Linked DNA regions of Homo sapiens. The protein of the gene in region 2 interacts with the protein of the main gene of each other region in a pairwise test. Each region holds a gene or a part of one and is shown on either strand. Other genes may lie near its edges.

Region 1 (9,364 bases), on a different chromosome or scaffold from region 2:
CCGCTTCTGTCGCCTGATGTTGACCCTGAAGATATGGCACAAAATGGCATGATTAGATGCCACGAGTGCCCACTTTGACTTTGAATTTTCACCAGCAATAGGTTTCACAAGGTTTCAGAGCTGGGTATGGGGGCAGGCTGTAAATTCATAACCATCTTACTTATTTTTCCCTAGAAAAGCCTGGGGAGGACTTTTTGCTCTGCATAGATGTTATAACAAAGCTGTGGTCTTTTTCCCATTCTTAGAGGATTGCCTTTGTCTGGCTGCTTGTTTTGATGGGTGTAAAACAAATAAGATTAGACCGAGCAGCCCAACTGAAAGCGATAGCTGGGAGGAAAACCCAATGAAAGGTTGCCGGGGAAACGAACAGAGGAGAAGCCGAGTAGGGAGCAGGTGGCTATCATGAGAACACACTGCAAACAGTGTAAAAAAAAAGGGGAGGGGGACAGGACCTCGATTATCTTTGCTGTTCTTTGTGGCCAGCCCAACTTTAATTATTCGTTATTAATAGGTGTTAATTACATTTCTAACTCTGGTTTACAGTGATTTTTAGAAATCTATTTTTAAGCATCTGTTCTGTCTCCCCTGTTTTTGTGTGTGTGTGCGTGTGTGTGTGCGCGTGTGGTTTTTGTTGTTGTTGTTGTTGTTTAAAAAACCCAGAGAGGAGGTGAGGGGGAAGGGAGGGTAGGGAATCTTGCTTTTTTTTTTTTCCTTTTTCCCCCTTTTCCCTGGTGTGAAATTGTACATGCGAAAAATCGCAAGGAATCCTGTGAGACCATTTGAAAAAATGTAAATTATATTGAATGAAGTTGACGGAAGCATAATAGTGAACTCCCACAGCTGATAGGTTCTGCAAATGATTTCTTAGAAATTTCCAGCAAATATTCATAGGAAAAATATAGGTAGAATAGATCTACCCTAAGCAATGATTTGGGGTTAGGTGATTTTGGTATTTTTACTAAATCGGATGTTGATACTATAGTTTCAGGGGAATTCATTGTACCTCTCATTTTTTTCCTCAGTAGAAATTACTTTACAAAATAATAAATGAAGAGCTTTTTGCTTTCCTTCTTTCCCCATGCCCACAGTCACAGGATCCATCAGGCTTGCACTCTCATAACCACTGCCTTCCATTTGGCATTTGGTCCTGATTCTGGTCTTGGCACAAACTGAGTGAAAAGCTGATTTTTATATTAGTGTCTTTGGACGTCTGGGACCCATGTGTGCACTGGGTGACAAGCATCTCTCTTTTTTCTCTAAATGTGCTTTACTAATAGTCTCTTTTTCTCATGATGGTGGGTACCATAAGGATTGAAAGGTGTAGTATTTGGGTGAACAGGAGATAGCGTAAAAACAATTGAAATGGTGATCTGTTAGGGTTTTTTACTAAAGGACAAAATAGATGCATGATCAGGGAGCTAATTGTAAGCCCAAAAATGAGAGATTTAAAAATGCTGAAATACACTAAAAGATTAGGAAATATAATTGGCTTTATTGAAAGTACACTTAATTTTTGCTCTCTTCATTGCAAATCCCCCCAATTCTTTTTTCCTTGCAGATGCGTCTTTTTGTTTTCTCTTCTTATTAGGGGATTTAAAAATTTTATTTTCACTCTTGAGGTAAAAATAAATAAACTTGTATTTTTTGTCATACACTTGAAACTTGCGGCCATATGTTGAGTGCATAAGCCTGTGTCACCTTTAAAAAAATAGAATTTTTTTAAGTCTCCAATATAGTTTCTTTTTTTATTTTCTGAGAATTTTCTGGCAATTTTTAGTTAGGGGAAAATAATTTCTGTAAGAAGTGTCATCTTGGCTTGGGTTGTAAAAAAGACACGTGGTTCTGATGCTGACCTTTCTCGATCCTTTGTCTTAAAAATATTAATGCCTACTACCTTCATGTGGAGTTGTGCTCTTATGGAAGCACAAGGCTGAATGTGCATTTATTAAGAAGTGAAAATCCAATTGGAAATATTTCTGCAAAAAACATCTGACTAAGTAGCAGTTTTAATGATCAGAATGTCCATATATCTCATAGTAACATAACAGCTAAATCATTTAATATTTAAATTTTTGAAAGGGTAAAATTAACATAGATGAGGAAGTAGCTGAAAAATTACTTTGAGAATTGTTGATTTACAAGACAATTTAATATCTCATTTTTTAAAAAGCTAACAAACAACTTAACCATTCATTTGTGATCTCAGTCCCATTCATTTTTACCTGCCATTCATTCAAGTCATTCTCCTGGCCAGATGTAGATGGCCTTGCTTCTGTTTGATGGTTTGCACAAAACCTTAAAACTTTTTCTCTCCCAATACTCCTTCCTTGGTCCTTTGAAAATTAGGGTGTTGTTATGAGAGGAAGGCCAGATTGTTGTGAGATAATAACAATAGAATATTTAGAAAGAGAGAGAGAGAAAGAAAATGAACTGCGCATTTGCCTTTTAGTTCTAAACTTAGTCTTGAAATTGGATTTGGGACACTTTGGACTTCAGATATTTTAAACTTAGGATTTCTATTAGGTATAAGCTATTTGAAATTTCACATCTAGAAATTATTGTTTGAATGGTGCTTTGTATGTGTGTGTTCAATATCTCTAAAAGGACTTGTGGATGAATTGAGATGTTTTTCTCAAGTTAGAGTTACTGTGAACAACAATGGGATTTCCTCAGAGTAAGTCTTTTTTTTTTTGGTTTGATTTCTTCCCTTTACACTTATTTCCTTATTATAGGTGGGTTCTTTTCCTATATGTAGGCCAAATACTATTTCTTCCATGAGGAGATATGCTGCTTCATTTAGCCCTGAGCATCTTAACACCTTATTTTAATTTTTTTAAAAAAAGAAACAAATTGTCTGTATGTACCTCAAGTAAGAAATGGTTGTCTTCATAGAGGTCATCATACATAGACGAAAGTACTTTGGCCTTGACAAATTTCTTCATTAGCTCCAATGATCTGTGGCCACCAGGCAGTTAATTTATATGCCTAGACATTTAATATGTACATTTGTTGGTGAGCTGGCCAGAGGATGCTAAACACACGAGTATGCGCTGGCAAATGCTGCAATGCAGTATTTTTTTCCCAATGTCATTGGGAATTTTGGGGCTAGGAAGGGACATGAACATTTTCAAGCTTTTATCTTACTATTGTCCAGTCGATGGGCCATGTTGTACAGATTTGGTCAATTCTCCTTTTGAAAGTAAAGTCAACCTTTTATTTACCACTATCCATTCCCCCATCCATGTAATGTATATGTGGAAAGTGTGTGTGTGCGAGAAAGAGAAGCAGAGAGACTCTGTGTGTATCAGTATAAGTGTGTTGCAGATTCCTGCACCTGTCTTAGGCTTTCCTTATTTGGTATTACTAAACATGTATACACACTTACTTGCAAGTATATGTGCATCTATAAATGGAGAGAAAACCAAACTGGGCTGCTTCCCATAAGAACTGGTTTCTCTTCATGACTCCAAGAGTTCTCATATTAGAAAAATATGAAATTTCAAATATTCATTAAAAAATATATATTCAGACCCTGCAGTCTGTTAGTAACCAAACACCTTTCTTTAGCTGCCACTTAAGAAATTATAAGTGTGCAAATGCATAACAATGTTTGTGAGCTAAAAGCCATCCCTTCAATCAAGGGCCTGGGTATGAATTAAAATGTGTGTATGTGAGTGTATATGGATATGTGTATATGTATGGGGGGCGGTGGGCAGGATGTTTTTCTTTGAGGGCATTTGAACCTAGTCTTTACCATTGGTAAAAATAAGGAGGCGGTAAGATGGAAGTGTTAACATCTGTGCTTTGCTTTGTAAGTTGGTGTGCAAGTGTGTGTGTATTAGGAACATCCTTATATTTGTGAAATCTCCACGTATTTTAGGGGTAAAGGGCTTTTATAGGTCACTGGCTTTCTAAGGGTAAAAAAAAAAGAAAAGGTGATCTGTGGGTGGGTGGGAGTCACAAGCAGTAATTGTCTTAAATTAGCTATTTAGCAGTGAAAAGGAAAAAAAGGCTGGAAGACAAGAGTGTAGAAGAGTACCAACATGTGGGTCTGCATCTTTCCGGTATAGGAGATAATGAGTGATAAATTTGAACTGGTGCAGTGCAAGATGCCCGATAATTTCTCTGAACCTTGACTTTGCAGGTCCATTACTTCCTTGCTTGCTTGTTCACACCTTTAATTATATCCAGTTTGGGATGCTAGCTGGGGGCACCACAGATAAGCCATTTTGTTTGTTGTTTACTTCATTAAGTATTCAGGCAGTGTATTCACAGTAGCTTTGGAGCATCAGTGTTAGGAATTGAGCAGTTTGGAAATGGAATTGTTAAAAAAGAACAAAAAAATAAGACAGCAATCAGCCAGCTAGCTTGCTTTGGATGTTCACATCCACTCTGCTTAATGGTAATATTTATGCTTTCCCTTGCACATTAATTAAGAAATAACTTACGCAGTGTCAGGGCTCTTAATAGGCTGGTGACTTTCTCTCTCTTTCTCTGTCTCTGTCTCCGTCTCTCTGTCTCTCTCTCTCTCTCTGTCTCTCACTCTAGCTCCAGCTGTCTCTTTCTCTCCACCCCACCCTTGAGACTGTCTTTGCTCAGAACATTTTAAGACCAACCAATTTTGCTTTAGGGGAGCTCATATTCAGATCCTTGTTGTATCTAATACCAAAGGTATTTCTCCCCTCAATAAAGATCCCCCTCTACAAGGATCAAGAAATGCTGAGAGCCCTAAAGGAATCCTTAAATAAATTTTGGTTGAGAAAGCAGTAGAAGTGTTGAGGAAATAAGGTCAGTGTAATTTTTGTGCTTGCGTTTTTGTTTTTTGTTGTTTTTGGAAAGTCTTATTTTTAACCCCAAAAGTAAAATGCAAAACTAGCATATGGGATTTTTTTAATGAAAAAAATATATATGTCTTAGGTCTCTCCTGAAAATAACCTCCCTTGGACTCTTCATTTGAAAAATAACATGTAAACTTTAGCTTAATTTTTGAATTACTCATTTTAAACTATAAAATATAGTTCATAAATATTTTTTCCATAGGAAGTTTAGTTCTTTTTTCAGGCTATGGGGAAGCAGAGAAATGACCCAGCGAAGATGGTGAATTCTGAAAAAAACACAGCATGGAGGTTTCCTCTGTTTGCACTTCGTAGCATTGAATCTTCTCCTGCTTCTATGAGTTATCCTTTAGCCCTTAAAGTTGTTTTGCCAACAGTGTTCATAATAGAGACTGACTGTCATTCCTTGTTGGGTGAAGATGTATTTGTTGAGGACTTACTATGTGCATTTCTTTGGAACGTGGAATCCAAGGTCACCATTTCTTTTTCTTTTGACAATGATCAGAAGACATAATTAATTAGAGGATAAGTCCCTGTGATTGGAGATGAAGTTAGGGTGAGGGATTTTTAAGGTGGCACATTGCACAATGAGGTTTGTGTCAAATAGTAAGAAAAGGTCTGCTGGAACATTCAAGTACATAAATGTCTTTCCTTCTGTATTTATAAGCATCTAGGTGTGACTCCAAAAGATAGAAATAAGAGATCTTTTGGACATTTTAGTCTATAAGGTTTCATGTGTCCACATCTTCAGCCTCAGGAAGAAATATAGAAGTTTGGACTGTTGAAAGGAACTTGTCTTTCAGTCAGCAGCCCATGAAGCTTGGCTGAAACTGGTTAATTTTACAGAAACACGAATGTCTTGCCTCCTTGCTTCTGATGTAAGTGGCTTTTTGAATTCCTTTTCCTCTGTTACCTCCCAGGAGCATCTGAACAGATAGTGACCGTTTTGGCATGCCAAATTGGAAGTTTGCTAGTGGAGCAGAAATCATAGTTACTTTGTCATATACATCTAAATACTGTGGTGTGTGTGTGTGTGTGCGTGTGTGTGTGTGTGTGTGTGTGTGTCATGTGTTGTAGACAGCTGGGAGCCCCGGTGTGCCGTGGGATGTGCCAATAATGGCTTCTAAAGTACTCTGTGTTTTCCTAAGCTGCCAGTCTAAACCCTTTAAAGGTTTGCTTTCTAATTTGTACATGAAAAATAACAGGCTGAGTTGAACTTTTTTTTTCAAGTGCCCCCTTTGAAGATGCAGCAGTAGTAAATACTGCTCTAATGATAAACTTTAGTTCTAAGTGCTACTTAAAAGTCTGTAGTAGAAAGGCTGAGAACTTGCCATCTTTACTAATGAAGCTTTCCTTAGGAAAATGCTCACTTAAAAGGGAGTAAATGACCAAGTCCCTGAAATTTGTGATTTTTACCAGATTTGACTTATCTTTTCTTATTTTACTTTTTGTAATGCAGCCAACCACACATCCAAAATTCTTGGTATTATACATGTCTTCAACATTAATTATCTCTGTTGATGCACTGGGTACAGATAGTACAGTTCCCACAAGTCCAGATTCTTACTGTAACACCAAAACAAAAGTGATATTTATGAATAATATTGGGAAAGTTGTCCTCATAGTAACCATTCCCCAAAGGAAGCTTTACATAAATGTGCACTTATTATTCAGGATATTAAAAGGGAATCGTTAGCTTTTACTTTTTAATTTGGGCTAAAATATGTAAATTGGTTTTATTTTGGAGTTTCTCTGTTTTAGGTGACTTTGGGGGAGGATAACTTTCTAGCTTGATTATATTTTAATCACCTCTCTAGTGGAAAAGTTAATCTTAAAAGCAACCTGCTTATTGTGATTAGGACCCAGAGGGCCTGTGTTCAGATGGGGCTAAAAACATATTATATTGACCTGTACACACGTAGAAAAATTAGATTTATTTCTACTAGATACCGCTATTACCATGCCTTTGTTGGCAAGGCTATCTCAGAGACCAGAGAACCGTGAGTCTGCCTCTGGCCTCCGAGGAACATCACGGTGTGCCTGTACAGGCAAGCCTCTAAAAAGATTGTTCTTTGTCTTAAGAAACTGGCAAGTGCAAAGGACTTCAGAGTCAGTTGAACTTAAGTTGGAATCCTAGCTCTTCCAGTTACTAACTGGGCAATCACAGATGAGTTACTTCAACATGAGCCACAATTCCTCATCTTTAAATGGTGATGACAATATCTAACTCACAGGGTTTCTGCAAGAATCAGATGAGAAACAGTATTTGAAGGCACCAGTCATACATAGGACTTGAAAATTGAAGGTGCTTTGAGGGTGTTAAGTCTCTTTCAGTCTGTCAGTCTTTCTGTCCCTTGGCAAAAGCCCTTCCCCAGAAAGAGGCCCATCTGCCCATGCCAGATGTCCTGGGCAGTGACATTGTATGCTACCCTCACTGTCTCCATACTGTCCCCAGCATGCAAGAAGGGTGGCACACAGTGTTGTTGTTTTTTTCTATATAGACAAGCCCTCAGTTCTTCCTCGGAATTGTATGGCTTTATTAAGTTTTCTGCATCCTCCTAGGATTTCACAAGCTGTATCCATGATCTCCTTTGGAATTAGAATTCACTTGGGATTTAGTTGTCAAAAGAGAAAAACGATGAAGATAAAATTAATTTTAACCAGTGCTGTTTTTTTAATTTCATGAAAGAGCCTGTTAGGAAAGTTAAAAGTCAGCCAGAAAGAAAATAAAAATAGGCTGAGCTTAATTGATATGGTCCCATCTTTGCTGTCTGTATATTGTAACTTGCAAATTATTTGACTTTTTCCCAGAAACCAACTTACTTCAGATCTATTTTTTTTCCTTTTCACTGTATCAGCTGTTTTCCTCCTTTCCCCTTGTTTTCCCAATAGGCTGAACTTTGAAGTTCTGTTTCTCACGGAATGGTGAAGAGGTTGAGGCAAAAAGTGGCTTAATGAGATTTTTGTAACTTGCCATCAGTTTTCCTTCTGCTTGGCAAGGCAGCATGATGGATGGCTTTGGCAGTGTGAACACCTCTAGAAGTGATCAGATTGACTGAAGAGATGTGCAGGATGTCAGCAGAATGCTGACCCTCAATTCATTACCCTCCCATTTGAAGGAAAAAAAAAGAGAGAGAGAGAAAAGAGGAAAACAACCACAAAAGCCTTGGCGTAGTTGTTGATTACACACACTTGGGAAGGGGTAATGGGTCGCGTCAGGACTGGTGTTAGGTTAAACCTAATTTTGTACCTTTTCCCCAAGGGTCTGAAGGGGGAAATAAATAAATAGGCACCATAAATTAATTCACAAATTGTTCTAAATGGGGACCTGTTGCTGTGACCTGTTGCCGTTATGAAGAAATAATACAAATTGTCCTGAAGGGATTCAAGATTCAAATTGAAAACACAATCTTGAAACACCGATTTTGAATTCTACTTCATATGCTTACAGGAAGGATATAAAGGGAAGTCGATTTTTTTCTTCAATGTAATCCTTAAAGTAGGGGAAGGGGTTATTAGTTGATCTGATATCCCAAATGCCATTTTGCAGGTCCTATGCTAAAAAAAGAAAGAGAGAGAGAGAGAGAGAGGGAGGGAGGGAGGGAGGGAGAGAGAGAGAGAGACAGAGAGAAAGAAAGAAAAGAAAGGAAAGAAAGAAAGAAAAAGAAAGAAAGAAAGAAAGAAAGAAAGAAAGAAAGAAAGAAAGAAAGAAAGAAAGAAAAAGAAAAAGATCCTTTGCTATGGAACAGGCAGACAATAAAACTTTTCTCTTTCCATATGAATCTATTTTAAGTCTTCACCAAGAATCTTTGGAGGATTTTGCAGGTGTGTGTCTATACATATTGTATGTGATGTGCAAGCTCTCTGGAAGAATTTGGTTGGTTTTTAGACTGTGTTTGTATGGGCAGAAATATATCTGTAAAAAGCGGGAGGGACTTGATTTTGGAGAAGGGATGGTATAGAAGATGTTTGTCCATATTTTAGCCTTGGAAAATCTCATGCCTATTAATGAAGGACAAAAAAGAAATGATTTACTGATTTGAGCAGGCAAATGAGAAGGTTGGATATTCTTAGGACCTTCTTGCTAGGTAGGTGTTTGTTTATTTAAAAGTTAAAAATTCATCCATATTTAGGTCAATACTTGAATCTCAGTTCCTTCTTTTTTTTAGATTTCTGGCTGAAGTTTTTCATGAGAAGAAAAAAGACTTGGAGCTTAGAACTGCTTTAGTAAGAACTATTAAACAGGTCTCCAGTCATTGAATTTTGGAGGCATGGGCTTGCAGTTGGTATAATCTTAACAGTATTCTTCCTGAACTATCCCATGTCCATTTCCCAAGAACAGAAGAACAAGTTCGCATTCTAGAACTTCAGCTGTTCTCAGCATAGTTCTGCTTGTAACAGATCTGTGACCATAGAGATCATCTTTCATGTTCACTCAGCCTTGTATAATTTTTGCCCTATGGTGTCAGTTTGATCTCTTTAATGTAATTAGGGCAGGTACTGTTAACTCTTTTTTATAGAAAATAAAG
Region 2 (5,213 bases):
CAGGCACAGCCGCTCGGAGTGGCCACCTGGCTTCCTTTGAGCATTTGAATCACAGGCTGCTCAGCTGGGTGGGAGGTGAGGAAGCCGCACTCACAAGTCGCACTAACGCAGGCTGCCTCCTCCAGGGCGACGGCCGGGGACTGCCTGGAGAGCTCCTATTTCAAGGAGAAGCCCCTACGTGAGTGTGCAGGGTTCCTGACTCGCTCTGTGGGGTATGGCTGGGAGCCCGTTTTGCCCGGGGTGGGTGGTGGAGAAGTGGCCTGCTGCCCTCACTGACGGCACACCCTTTCTGGGGTAAGAGGACAGGGGCATGTGGAGGCACAGACAGCCCAGGGCCAGGTCCAGAGGCAGAGCTGGACTCAGACCTGGGCCTGCTCCTCCTATCTGGGGCCCTGCCCCGCCCAGCACTGAACCCTTCTCCCTGCAGCCTGTGAGCCGGAGCTCATGCCGACCTTTCCCCACCACCGCAACAAGCGGGCCGCCCCAGCCACCTCCGAGGGCCAGAGCAAGCGCTGTAAACCCTGACGGTGGGCCTGGCACACGCCTGTATTCCCACACCAGGTCTTCCGATCAGTGGTGTCTGTGAAGGGTGCCGCGAGCCAGGCTGACCAGGCGCCCGGGATCCAGCTCATCCCCTTGGCTGGGAACATCCTCCACTGACTTCCTCCCACTGTCTGCCCTGAACCCACTGCTGCCCCCAGAAAAAGGCCGGGTGACACCGGGGGGCTCCCAGCCCGTGCACCCTGGAAGGGCAGGTCTGGCGGCTCCATCCGTGGCTGCAGGGGTCTCATGTGGTCCTCCTCGCTATGTTGGAAATGTGCAACCACTGCTTCTTGGGAGGAGTGGTGGGTGCAGTCCCCCCGCTGTCTTTGAGTTGTGGTGGACGCTGGCCTGGGATGAGAGGGCCCAGAAGACCTTCGTATCCCCTCTCAGTCGCCCGGGGCTGTCCCGTGCATGGGTTGGCTGTGGGGACCCCAGGTGGGCCTGGCAGGACTCCAGATGAGGACAAGAGGGACAAGGTATGGGGTGGGAGCCACAATTGAGGATACCCCGAGACTACCAGGAGAGCCCTGGGCTGGAGGCTGAGCTGCATCCCTGCTCCCCACATGGAGGACCCAACAGGAGGCCGTGGCTCTGATGCTGAGCGAAGCTATAGGCTCTTGTTGGATAAAAGCTTTTTTAACAGACATGGTTTCACCAGCGTTTAATGTGCTCTGATGTTGACCGTCCCTCTGAGTGTTCTGGGGAGGAGGGGGTGGGGCGGAGGGTCAGGAAAGCAGGCTCAGCTTCCAGGGTCAGGGAGTTGTGGGCCCAGAGGGGCTGTCACAGTGGATGCACCCTGCCCTCTCCCTCGCCAGACCCGAGGGTAGGGCAGAGGCACCTCCTCGCCAGCCTGTGGGCTGCACCCACAGGGAATGGAGGGGAGGGGCACCATTACCACTGGACCCACCAAGACCCCGCCGCCTGGGCGGGCTGTCCACAGGCCCTTCCGCCCAGCAGCAGTGACGCTCAGGGCCTTCCCAGCTGTCAGCCACTGCCCGTTCCTGCGCCTCTCGTGCACCTCCACATCTGGTTTGAGGTCAGGTCATTTCCTGTCTGTGGGCCCAGCTGCTGTGACACCCAAGGGGAGGGCCGGCGTCCCCGAAGCCAGGTCAGCCGTGCACCCGGCAGAGCCCCGCAGATTGGCTCCAGCAGAGCTTGGGGTGGGGGGAGCTCGGTGTCACCAACAGGCCCTTGAGGACACTCGTGTGGAGAATCCCTGGGACACGTGGAGGACCCCCAAGTCCTGAGCCCCGTACTCCGTACTGCAGGGAGCAGGCCAGGAGCCACGGGCCTTGGGGCACAGGGTCCTTCTCAGGGACAGGTTCAGGCACTGGCTGGAACAGGCTGGACCCCTCTACCCAGCACATGTGGGCATGCGTCTGGGTTCCGAGGGTGGGGAAATGTGGAAAGGCTCCTGCTGGCCGGCTTAGGCCTGCTGCCCTTGGAGCCTTCCATATACAGAGAGTCCCACCTCCAGCAAGGGTTGGCCTGGACTCTCCAACCCCCTGCTGTGCCCAGGACTCCCCCAGGGACAAGGCAACCAGAGGCCCAGACCCCTCCCCAGCAAAGAGAAGCACCACGGGAGCTGTCTCCCAAGAGCCCTTGACCTGGGGCCCAGCTGGCCTAGGGCCGGGCCCCGGGGCTGTTGTAGAGCAGAGTGTCCATCTGTGCACGCTGTAGCCACAAGCGCCGCTGGGCGTCGCCAAGCAGCACACGCAGCGAGTGGCCTGGACGGCAGGCGGGCAGGGCTGCACAGTGGGCAGCATGCAGCTGGCGACAGGTGTCGCAGCAGAGGGTGGGCAGGGCGCCAGGGGACAGGCAGCTGTGTGCCTGGTAGCCTGGGGGCTCCGAGACAGACCTATAGGCTGAGGCTGGTACCCCCTCTGCCCGAATACGCCTCGGGCTGGCCGCTGCAGAGCTTTCAGGGGTGGCCAGGTCCCCAGGCCTACTCAGCTCACGGCGCAGAGAGAGGAAGGAGAAGGCGGAAGGTTCAGGTTCCAGCCCCTCCTCCAAGGCCCCATATGGTGGGCTGCTGGCCTGCGGCAGCTCCTCAGCTGGGGGCTCCCAGGCCCGGCCCCCAGTGCCCCACAGTTTGGCACTCTGCTCCCAGAGTGGTGGCCTGTAGGCCAGCTCCGCCGGGGGCGAGTCAGGGCCTGGTGACGGCTCCCCATACAGGCTGGCGTCCTCCGACCCCTCGTCTTCCTGCAAGTCCCGGTATAAGTCCAGTGGGGCCCTGTAAGCAGCAGGGGAGCCTCGGGGGGGCAGGGGTGGCGGCTCCTCATCCTGGGCCAGCCGCTGCTGCAGCCAGGCCACACAGGAGGCCACGTCCCCGCTGGCACGCCGTGCCTGCAGCAGCTCCTCAGCTGGCAGCACACTGGTGCCCAGCTGGGCCAGCACCTCACCCAGGATCTCACACTCCAGCCGGAGGGCGAAGCAGCCCAGGGCCACCTGCACCAGCTGGCAGGCGGGGGGCAGGGCGGTCACCATGAGCCGATGGCTGTCTCTGCGTACGTAGCCCATCTTCTGGAAGCTCTTCAGGAGGAGGTCGTCTGAGAGCACACCCTTCAGCACGTGCACGTAGCCCCCAGAGAAGGTCTGCAAGGGAGCGGCCAGGTCAGTGACTGCCCACCCTCCCATAGGCCAGACCCTAGGGTACAGTGGGTCCGGGATCTGTTGGCTCAGGCCTTGGCAGCTTCTGATGCTCAGACCCAACCCCAGAGACTAGGCTTAGCCAGCTTGGGCCAGGCCCAAACATGATGATTTCTTTTTTTTTTTTTTTTTTTTTTTTTTTTTGAGACAGAGTCTTGCTCTGTCATCCAGGCTGGAGTGCAGTGGCTCCATCTCAGCTCACTGCAGCCTCTGCGTCCCAGGTTCAAGCAAGTTCCCCTGCCTCAGCCTCCCGGGTAGCTGGGACTACAGGCGCCCACCACCACACCCGGCTAATTTTCATATTTTTAGTAGAGACAGGGTTTCACCATGTTGGCCATGCTGGTCTCAAACTCCTGACCTCAAGTGATCCGCCTGCCTTGAGCTCCCAAAGTGCTGGGATTACAAGCGTGAGCCACTGTGCCCGGCCTAGAATTTTTTTTTTTTTTTCTTTTTTGAGACAGAGTCTCGCTCTGTCTGGAGTACAGTGGCACGATCTCGGCTCACTACAACCTCCTCCTCCCGGGTTCAAGCGATCTTCCTGCCTCAGCCTCCTGAGTAGCTGGGATTACAGGTGCGCACCACCACGCCCCACTAATTTTTGTATATTTAGTAGAGACGGGGTTTCACCATGTTGACCAGGAAGGTCTTGATCCCTTGACCTCATGATCCACCCACCTTGGCCTCCCGAAGTGCTGGGATTACAGGTGTGAGCCACCGCACCTGGCCGAATTTCTTAAATTTAATGGAAAAAACAATGAATACATTAACCTAGCTCACAAATCAGAACAAAATGAAGAGCCCCTGTACTGAGAAATTCCACTGTCTTCTGTCCCACCGCTCCCTTCACCCCTGGAGATGGCCTCATCTAATTAGTTTTGAATGTACTTGCCCAGGTGTTTGTTTTGCAAACCCAAATACAGATTTCGTTTGCTCCTCGTATGAGGTAGTCCCCCCTTTTTTTTCACCTCTTTGTAAGGTCTCTAACCAAAGCTAGACAGGTAGCCTCTTAAACGTGTTGTTCTGAACTTTGTTTTTTTCCACTACAGTCTTGCAGACAAGGACAGAAGCTGTAACGTTCATTCCCCCTGCTGTGTAGTATTCCACCATGGGGGTGACACGTCTGTTTTCAGCGCTCTCCAGAGGCTGTCCATGCACTGGGCTGACAGCCGTGGGACGGTAGAAGGGTGAGTGCTCTTTTTTTTTTTTTTTTGAGACGGAGTCTCACTCTGTCACCAGGATGGAGTGCAGTGGCTCGATCTCTGCTCACTACAACCTCCACCTCCCAGGTTCAAGTGATTCTCCTCCCTCAGCCTCCTGAGTAGCTGGGATTACAGGCGCGTGCCACCACACCCAGCTCATTTTTGTATTTTTTAATAGAGACGGGGTTTCACCATGTTGGTTAGGCTGGTGTCAATCTCCTGACCTCGTGATCTGCCCACCTCGGCCTCCCAAAGAGCTGGGATTACAGGCGTGAGCCACCGCGCCCGGCCTGGCTGAGTGCTTTCTAGCCTACACTTAGGTGAAGAACTAAAGGAGCTCAGGACAATCACTGCGAGCGTCTCCTGACTCTCAAATTCCCTAACTCCGGGACTCCTAGCATCTAATGCCTGGACACGGCCCACGTGTGGAGCGCCCAGTGCCTGCAGCACTGAGCTCGGGGCTTTGATTCATTCCTCTGGCCCCATGAACTGGACTGTTCCCGTGTCGCTGTCTCAGGAGGAAAGGGGCTGACAGAGATTAGCTAATTTGGCCAAGTCCTCGCGGCCAGGAAGCAGCAGAACTAAGTCCAAACCAGGGCTGTCCGGCACTGAAGCCGGTTATTCCCCCGCCCCGCCCCCTGGGAGGCCTCAAGGGCGGGCCTGTCCGTCCTCTCTCATGAATGAAAGTCCTGGCGCCTCCGACCAGCAGGTGTCCCCGGGGAGCCGCGGAGAGACTGCCGCTGCCATGGCAACCGGCGGAGGCGTAGCTCGCCCACGTGCCCAGTGACGTCATCGGCTTCCTACTCTTCCGAATTAGCTCAG
Region 3 (9,364 bases), on a different chromosome or scaffold from region 2:
CTTGATATGTAGTAAACATTCAACATTCAATTTATTTTACAAATAAATTGTCATTCAAGAAAAATTAGAAAAATTTACTGAATGCCTACTATGTGCCAGGTACAATTTAGATGCTGGGAGTAACATGATGAGCAACACAAAGTTAACGAAAAATGTATTACAAAGATTATTTTATGTATATAAATGAACCTGCCTTCAAAATTGAGAACTGAAGGGGCCAAATAAAGTTTGTCTTTACATGTTGAACTTTTTCATACAGTACAGACTTACTTTAAAATTAAGGTATGCTTATAGTAAAAGATTTATAGGCACATATATTTGACATGGGATCATCAAGTATGTGACTGCTGGGAATATTTTAAATCAGGGAGGAGGAAGGAGGAGGAGAAGAAACTGAATAGCAGTTCCATAACCTTTAGCAGAACGGATATATGGCCCATCCTAGTCAATACAATTTCCTTGGCGGGCGGAAGGTAGATAAACTAGATCATCTGTCTGTCCGATTTGAAAAATGCACTTAGCTTTATGAAATAAACGTTTGGTTTTTCTTCTAATAAAGATTCACTTAAAGAGGTTATGACAATAGTGAAAAGAAGAAGAATAGGGAAGAAAAAGGTAAACCATACATTCCTTATTCTAACAAAGAAGAAGCTGAAGAATGCTTTCTTCATGTTTATAGCATTAGTATCTTTGTGCTTCTTACAATAGAAACCAAAACAGAATCTCCATTTAGGTCCACAAAAGTTTAGAAGTAAACTAATCACTACAGTTGTAGCAAGGAAATACTACACAAGTCGAGAACAAAAAAACAAGGTAAGAATAGAAGTCAGTAAGGATTTGACACCTCCCTACCATGACGAGGTAAAGGGAAGTCTAGCAATTCCTTTACAATTCAGGAAACACTACATCTATCACGTGTACAGACTTAAGCATTAAAGACTCATGAGAATTTGGGATAAAATACATTTCTGTGCAGATTTTCAATCTGAGGCAACGTACCTTGATTCTCTTAAATCTTGCCCAAAGACAAGTATCTCAAAGAAAGATGACCATCCTTCCAGTTGATACCATGCTCCTGGCAGTCCAGTGCCTGTCCTTAGAGAGAAATGCTCCTGGCACAGCCAGCCCAGAGGACACATCACCCCCCTGTTCCTTTCTGACAGGCCTCACCACACGGACTTTTGCTACAGCTCCTAGTGGACATGTGTCATTCCACCACTAAAGCGACTGTCTTCTCCAGAGCATGCAGCACACGGCAATTCTCACTCAGCAAGTGCTAGCTGAGTTAAATCACACTTGGTCTCGGGGCCTTGGTTTCTTCATTTAGAAAATGATGGTGGAAATATCTTTTCAGCCCTTTCCACAGAGGTATCATAAGGCTCCAACAAACTAAAGCAGATGAAAAGAGCTCTGGAAAATGGAAAGTGCCACACAAGTGTAAGAGGGCCATCCAGCAGGTGGGCACCATACTCACTGCAATGGATGAAGTTACACAGACAACACAGACACAGTTGGGCTTGAAAGAGTCTTGCTCAAAATTCAGAGGAATCAGGCAGTACACAAAGATTTTAGGAAAATCTGTGTCATGAGTAGTTTTGAGATTCTGATTCAAAGAGGCAAGCATGGTCCCCAGATGATGCCAGAATGGAAGCTCCACAGAAGATATTAATACCTTGCCTGAATTACCCGTCAAAGGATCCCCAAGCCAGCAAACATTCGTATTTGATGAATGGGTGAATCAGAAACAAGGATAAGAGGACCCCCAAGAGCTCCCAACTTCAACCAGGAGGGAGTCTAAGGGGCCTGGCTGGCCTAGGAGACGCAGACTGACCAGCCTCCAGCCTGAAGTCCTGCAGGAAGTCTATTTTAAACCCTTTTCTCCAACCTTTTGGCAAGTTCTCACCATGGGGCAGGAAGTGAGCACAGGCCTGGGAACTCAATAGGCAAACAAATCCAAATTCTACCCTGGGCTCTGCACCTAACTGGATGGCCTCTCCTTAAAATGTGGTTACCAGAACCTGCTTTGCAAGGCTGATGCAAAGATTAAAGTTGATAATATATGTAATTCACTAAGCACAATGCAAGGACATAGTAAACACTAAACAATAAATCATCAGTCCCTTTTGTCTTCTGGGCAAAGGAGGAACCCAAATTAGGCTAGATGATACGAAATCCCTCCCAACTCAGATCTTTAGTCTTGGAGCAGAGACAGAGCCAAATTTCCCTTAAAGCCCTAGCTGGGTTAGAAGTGAGACAATCCATCAAGACAAAACACTGAGAATTACTGGTCCCGTGATAAAGACCTGCTACATAACCATCCATTCCATTTTCCCAAAACTATAACCAAAGTCATCTGAGTGCGAGTGAATTCCATCCCTTGAGGCAACAATGAGCAAGGCAAATATCTGTAACACCCAGCTGGAACAAGGATTTGGCTACAAGAATAAAGAACACTCTAGCACATCCAGAACAAGATTTCGGCGTTGTGTCGGTCTTTGGAAGGAGGAAAAAAATCCCAGAGGTAATGCTTTCAGGTTCAGGCCTTTTGTTGACACACGTAAGAAACTGAGAGAAACAGAGGGCATTTGAGTTGATACTCAAAGAATGAACTCCTTCATACCCTCTAAACTGTTTGCTGAGAAATCAGCAGTGCTATTAGCAACTGCACAAGTGACAGGACACACCATCGACTTCCTGTGCGCCCCAGTGACCTCTGCACAGCAGCACTTGGGCACACTCCATATTTACTTATGGTGCAATCTGATCCTGACTTCAGTGAGTTATTTCGCAAGCCTTTTAAGGGTTACTGCATTTTGTTCCTATAAGAGGCCAGTCCAAATTAGCAACAAAAGAATAGTTAAACACAAGAAAAACCACCTCTTTTGTGCTCAAGAAAGGCAGTCCTGGTCATTAAAAAGGTAAAGTGCTTTATTCGCTATCAACTTTCTTTTGCAAAAATCAGTCCAGTAATTTCCCAAGGGGGGAATCAGTAGTCTCACTCTCCTGAAGATGAGGATTGCCAAAATGGTGCGCCCATATACTAAAAGTGCAAGTTGTCTAGCGTTTGGTTCTGCGCCATGTCTCACAGGAATTATTCCAGCTATCAACGGCTACATAACAAATTACCCTAACATTTAGCATCCTAAAGCGGCCGTTTTATTTTCAATCTTTCTCCCCGCTTTTGTTTTTCAGACTAGATGATTTCTACTGATGTATCTTAAAGTGTACTGGCTCTTTCCTCTGTGATCTTTCTTGAGGTTAAGCACATTCGGTATTTTTTTTTTTTTATTTTAGATACTGTATTTTTCAGTTCTAGGATTTCCATTTGGTTCTTTTTTATAGTTTCTATTTCTCTGCTGAGATATCCCACCTTTTCACTCTTATGAAGCGTATCTCCTTTACATCCTTGAGCACGGTTACATTTGGTACTTTAAAATCCTTGTCTGCTAAGCCCAGTATCTGTGTCCTCTCACAGTCAGTCTCCGCTGATCATCTTTTCAATTGAGAACAGGTCACATTTTCCTGAACGTCAAGCAATTGTAAACTGTATCCTGGACATTACAGGATACATTATGCTGTGGCAATTCTGGATTATATTATATTCCTCTAAAGAGTGTTGATTTTTTTTTTTAGAGGGCAATTATTAATTATCTACAGTGTAAGTTGGACTTAATACTATAAACTCTAGGGTGGGAGCTCAAATCTCAATACAATGACTTCATCCTTAGCTTAGCTGCCTGGAGCCTGCCCCACACGTGTGATTCAGCCATTAGCAGAGATTTAGGTAGCTGACACCCAGAGTTTGGGGTCTGTTTTCTACTTTCCACAATTCCCCCCTCACTTTCCAATGCCATGGTTGCCCTCAAACTGTTCTTTGATTCTTCAAGCTAGAAAGACGGAAGATTTTGTAACTGACTTTTCACTGCCCTGCATGCCACACACTGTGTCATTCCCTTCTTCCAAGCATCAATTTCACTCCAGAATCTGCCCGTTTGTGTCAAATTCGAGTGTCTTCACATGGCTATTTTTTGTCCAAAGTTTATAATTGCTATTTGAAGAAGGATCAGTCCAACAGTAACTGACTGGGCTACTAACTGAAGCAGGACCTATATCCCTTATTTTTTTTTTCTATTTTTTACTTTTTCTCATAATACTATGGGTCATAAATTCAGGAAGGACTATGCCCAGTAGGGGGGCCCTGATCTATGTGGCATCAGCTGGGCAAGTAAGAAACTGAGGATGGATCTACTCCCAAGATGGTTTCTCGCACACATCTCATGCCTTGATGTTCCTTCACCAGACCTTTCCTCTCTCCTCATTGTATCTTATCTTCCAGGGCTTTTCCATGTGTATTCAGCAACTCGCAGCAAGGTGATCTCTGGGAATCTATACTTCTTACATAGTGACGGGCTTCTAAGAAGCCAGAAATAGAATCAGCTAGACCAGTTAAGGGCTATGCTACAAATGGTATAGGATCACATATTTGATTGCTCACAGCAGCCACAGGGCCTGCCCAGATTCAAGTGGATGGAGAAATAGATGCCAACCCTCGACAGGGGAGTGGCAAAGTCATACTGCAGACACACATGTACAATGCAAGACATTCTGCCACCATCTTAGAAAAATATAATCTGGCAGAAATTTAATTAATATTTAACTAAGCAAATCAAATGCCACCCGAAGTAAAACTCCAGAAAAATACAGAAAGGCGAGATCAATCTGAAGCATGTGGTCCAACTGCCCTGAGATCTTTCTTACCATTCTCTCACATTCTCAATATAACTACCTTTAAGCTCTTCTGCACATAAGAGGTTTCTAAAAGCAGCCTACTAGGTCCTCAAAGACTTCATACTTAAATATTATATTCCTTTTATATCCATTTTAAAACATCTAGAAGAAAAGGCTTATGATGCTATCGTCCATAAACATAGGATATAGATCTAAGCTTTGTTTTTTAAGATAATAGGCAATAATAACTAGTGTTTATTAAATATCTACTGTGTGTTAGAAATTTGTCTAGGCTCCAAAGAGCCTATATATTAACATATACATATATATATATACACACACACACACACGTGTGTGTGTGTATATATATGTGTGTGTGTGTGTGTGTGTGTGTGTGTGTGTGTGTGTGTATTCATATAAAATATATATCTCTCTATCCAAGCTACTTTCTAAGCACCTCAAGCTTTCACTCCAAAAGAGTGAATGTCTTCCAAGGACTATATTCTAAATGAAGCCATACATGTATAATACATACTAAGAAATCCTCTTACCTTGTCTTGGTTATCTTTATTCTTGTAACACAGATTTCCAATCAGACGAATGAGATGAGACTTAAACCCATTGGCCACATTGGAGATGTCACCTTCTGCTCTCACGCAACCACAATTACTGAAGATGTTTGTGGTTTCTTTTCCAGCTACATGAATCACCCGCAAAAGATCTATAACCAAAAGAGTAAACTTCATTTTCCACAGAAAAGTAACTTTTAGTATGTTGTACTAATAGTTTTCCATAGACAAATCTAATTTATTGTAATAGGCTAAAGGTAGAGCACAGAAAGCTTTATTTAAATAATGATTACAAGGCTCTTCTGCCTTTGCTTCAAAAAATGATTAGAAGGCTCTTCTGCCTTTGCTTTAAATTTTTTGACTCTAGTTTTGGGGAGATAAGCCATAATGACTACCCCAACTCAGAGTTTCTATTTATCTACAAAAAAAGTTAGCTAAAAGTTTGCTAGCATCCTTCTTACAAAAAGGTTTCCAATCTCAACTTCTTTATGAAAGAACTTTTCTAATAACTTCAGTCAATGAAGTCTAAAACACAATATCTATCCATAATGATGCATATGACAGAAACCAAGAAGAGTGCTTATTTTTCCCTCATCCAACTGGCCAAATCATCAGAAGCCAGCATATGTTCTCTATACTTCACTCCAGCTACATTCAGGAGAAAGAACTTACCACTGCTCTACTCTATGAGCACCTCCAGGCAGCCAATGAAAACAGACAATCTTCCAGGAACTGCATTTCAGTGTTTCCACATTATCTCATTTAACCCTCTCAACAAACCTATACAGGAAGGTATCACTTTCCCAATTTTATAATGAAGAAAACAACAGGCTCAGAAAAGTTGGCACCTGGCAGAGCTGGGATGGCAACCCACATCGACCCTGGCTCCAAACTCAGGCTCCTTCCATAATCACTCAAGTGTGCTAGGTTTGTGGTGTTTTATTTAAATTATCACTAAAAGCAATGTACTCAAAATACAACACTGATGAGGAATTCTAAGGATCTTCCTCTACAGCTGACTGCTAGCTCATCTATACTGCTAGACACAAAGTCATCTTTCTCAGGACACTGGTCTCCAGAGTAAGTATCATCTTTTTAAAGGAAAAAATTGCAAATAATGAACAGCAAACCTAAGCATGGCTAGCCACAAGGAACAGGTTCTACTTGAATTATTTTGCAAACAGCTTTTTAGCAAGGTTGGTAATACTTTTAACAATGGTTTCTTGTTTAAAACCTTTTTCTCATAAGATTTGTATATATAATATGTATAAAACACCATTCTATGTGTTCACTAAATGTAAATGGGAAAAATTTACTGCCACATTTTACAAAGCTATAGTAATATAAAACCACAATCATCATCGCAAACCTGCCTGCCCCACCTTCTTCATCACATCCTATATTGATGAAACATCTACTATATGCATAACAGGCATTGTTATCCTCACATTACTGAGAAGGAATCTTCAGTTAACAGAAGGGAAGTGGCTGAACAAACACATGGGCTCAGGTTTATCTGGCCTGCCTGAACTGTTACAACACTGTGATTCCTCTCAAAAAAATATATTCACAAAATTCCCAAAGTACACTGAAAATTAAGGATTTGTATTTGGATTTATATTACAGTATGACAAGCCAAAGATTTCTTAGCTAAAAATACAATGTGTGATATTTCACTCACCAATCACTCTTTCCAGCAAGCCAGGGAAAACCTGCAGATAGCCGAGCAGCTCAGTATTCACAGTCATTTCGCACAGGACGTCGAGAAGCCTAATTGTAGCCAGTGCCTCCTAGAAAGAAAAGAAAACATAACTTTTTAGCATATTTTAAGAGAAATTATTTAACTGTTATAAATAACTGTAAGAGAATAAAATATTTCAATAAATTTAAAGAGTCTGTGCTTGTAATAAGTCAAAGAGAAAAACAAAACTATGAAGAACAAAACAGAAGTATGAAATATGTACACGACTCATCATTTTCACTAACAGCAGACATCTGCCATCAAGAATGCAAGATTATGTGTCATTATGTGTCTTCTTGGAGCAAAGAGTCAGAAAAGTTCTTATTCAAGCAAAAAGACATTCCAACAGTGGAATAAATGTTCAAAATTACTAGCTATGTACATGACATTTATGCAAATACTTTCTTTTTAAAGCATTCCCAGCATGCAAATTCCACTTTAAAGATACAAATATCCCATAAAATACATTAATTTCTTGTCCACAGAAATCCTGTAAAATGCTGTGGTTGAAAAAACTCTGGCTTTAAGAACTTGCATAATTTCTGGGTAAATATGAACTTCTATGCAATATCTTGGTAGATTAGAAAGACAGTACTGTTTGAAAATGCTACTTCACATAGCTACTAAATAATTTATCAAATACACTGCATGACCAAGAAACTACCCAGTACCAACTGCATAGCATTAAGTAGTCTATACAAAAATTTTAAATGTAACTTTTGTATAGATTTTGAACCCCATTTTTAAAGTACCCATCATTTGACAAAATGTGGCAGAGATTATAAAGTTAGTCCATAAAGATAACATTCTTCACATTGGGAGGCCGAGGCCAGAAGATCACTTGAGGTCAAGAGCTCAAGATCAGCCTGGTCAATATGGTGAAATCCCGTCTCTAGTAAAAAAAAATATAAAAATTAGCCACGCTTGGTGGTGGGTGCCTGTAATCCCAGCTACTAGGGAGGCTGAGGCAGTAGAATCGTTTCAACCTAGGAGGCAGAGGTTGCAGTGAGCCAAGATCACGCCACTGGACTGTAGCCTGGGCAACAGAGCAAGACTCTGCCTCAAACAAAAAAAAAAAAAAAAAAAAAAGAGATAACATTCTTCAAAAGAAAGACAAATTACTTCCTTGTTAGTTCTAAATGTGTATTTACTGTTTTCTAATTAAGAGATTTAAAGGTAATACATTAATATAGTATTCTGAAATCTCAAAATAAATAGCAAAAAACAACTCATATTTTTAATGTCTTGGATCTTTAATTTTATATCATAGCCTTCTTTTGCTAAAGAGTTAAGTGGGAAAATCTAGATTAGAAGTCTAGATTAGTAGTACCATGTTAAAACGAGTCTTGACCAACTCCATCAATTTCACAAAGCTTCATCAACCTCTTTTGTTAAAGGTGTAGCTGCCCAGATTGTTATCGTGAGATACCACTGCTCCTTCAAGAACAGACCTGGGACAGCCCATGCAAAAGGTAACCCTGGACATCTTGTCATAGCAGACAACAAAGACGCTATTACAGGCTACTAGGGTCATGTCAGAAATTCGGAATCAGAAACAACTTGATGAGGCTCCCACCGGCCAGCAGTGGCACATTAAACATCAGAAAGAATTACAACGGTAACGGACTGAAAACAAATCAAGCGGTTTTACAGCTATGGCTTCATAATGAAAATAAAACAAAACAAACCAACTCACTGGTCATCTTTGAATGATGCCACAAAACCAACTCATTATTCTGAAGATTGGTAATCAAGAGGGAAAACAATCGAGCACTTATCCTGCCTTTCTTCATCCAGTGTACCTCACAGAACCTAAGAATTGGTTAGGGAAAGTTTCTCTTTAAAAAATATTCCTGCTAATAAACAAAAAATGAACAATAATGTTAAAATGCCACCATTTTGCAACCCCTAAAGAATTCATGGATCTAGGTGATCATTAATGACTGCTAATATCACAGAGACAACCAAGCCTCATGTGCTTCTTGACGAAAGTAGTATCATCAACAGCGAAACACTACTGCAAAAAATAAACAAAAAAAACTAACCCAAATCTGAATATGCCTCTGGAACGAATTTTCATTCACAGGAAATGCAAGGTAAAGAAGAATATGTTAAGTGCCACCCTGAAGACATACTCATCAAAATCTAAAATCTAGAAAAGTCTACAGGAAAAACAACCCAGTTTCTCCAACAAATAAGTAGCAAAGAGGAAAAAAAGAAGAGGAAAGGGGAACCTATACACTGGAGTAAAGTTATGTCAATCACTTGCCCTTATCTGTAAGGTGTTACAGATAAGGTGGCCCTTATCTGTAAGGTGTTTCAACAA

What was found. The genes of interacting proteins can lie anywhere in the genome.
Region 1: the proteins of SPATA2L (region 2) and ELAVL4 interact in binary tests that used the Homo sapiens proteins (3 or more experiments, as listed by UniProt).
Region 3: the proteins of SPATA2L (region 2) and ATXN10 interact in binary tests that used the Homo sapiens proteins (3 or more experiments, as listed by UniProt).

What each region holds. Positions count from the first base shown.
Region 1 is NC_000001.11:50,110,540-50,119,903, forward strand, and holds part of ELAVL4 (ELAV-like protein 4), read left to right. Parts: intron 1-9,246; exon of another isoform or gene 9,247-9,364. UniProt on the Homo sapiens protein: RNA-binding protein that is involved in the post-transcriptional regulation of mRNAs. Plays a role in the regulation of mRNA stability, alternative splicing and translation.
Region 2 is NC_000016.10:89,695,168-89,700,380, forward strand, and holds the end of SPATA2L (spermatogenesis-associated protein 2-like protein), read right to left. Parts: intron 3,139-5,213; coding exon 2,167-3,138; 3' UTR 1,190-2,166; downstream 1-1,189. Other genes in the region: CDK10 (cyclin-dependent kinase 10), read left to right, coding at 126-178, 428-525.
Region 3 is NC_000022.11:45,736,454-45,745,817, reverse strand, and holds part of ATXN10 (ataxin-10), read right to left. Parts: intron 7,088-9,364; coding exon 6,979-7,087; intron 5,450-6,978; coding exon 5,280-5,449; intron 1-5,279. UniProt on the Homo sapiens protein: May play a role in the regulation of cytokinesis. May play a role in signaling by stimulating protein glycosylation. Induces neuritogenesis by activating the Ras-MAP kinase pathway and is necessary for the survival of cerebellar neurons.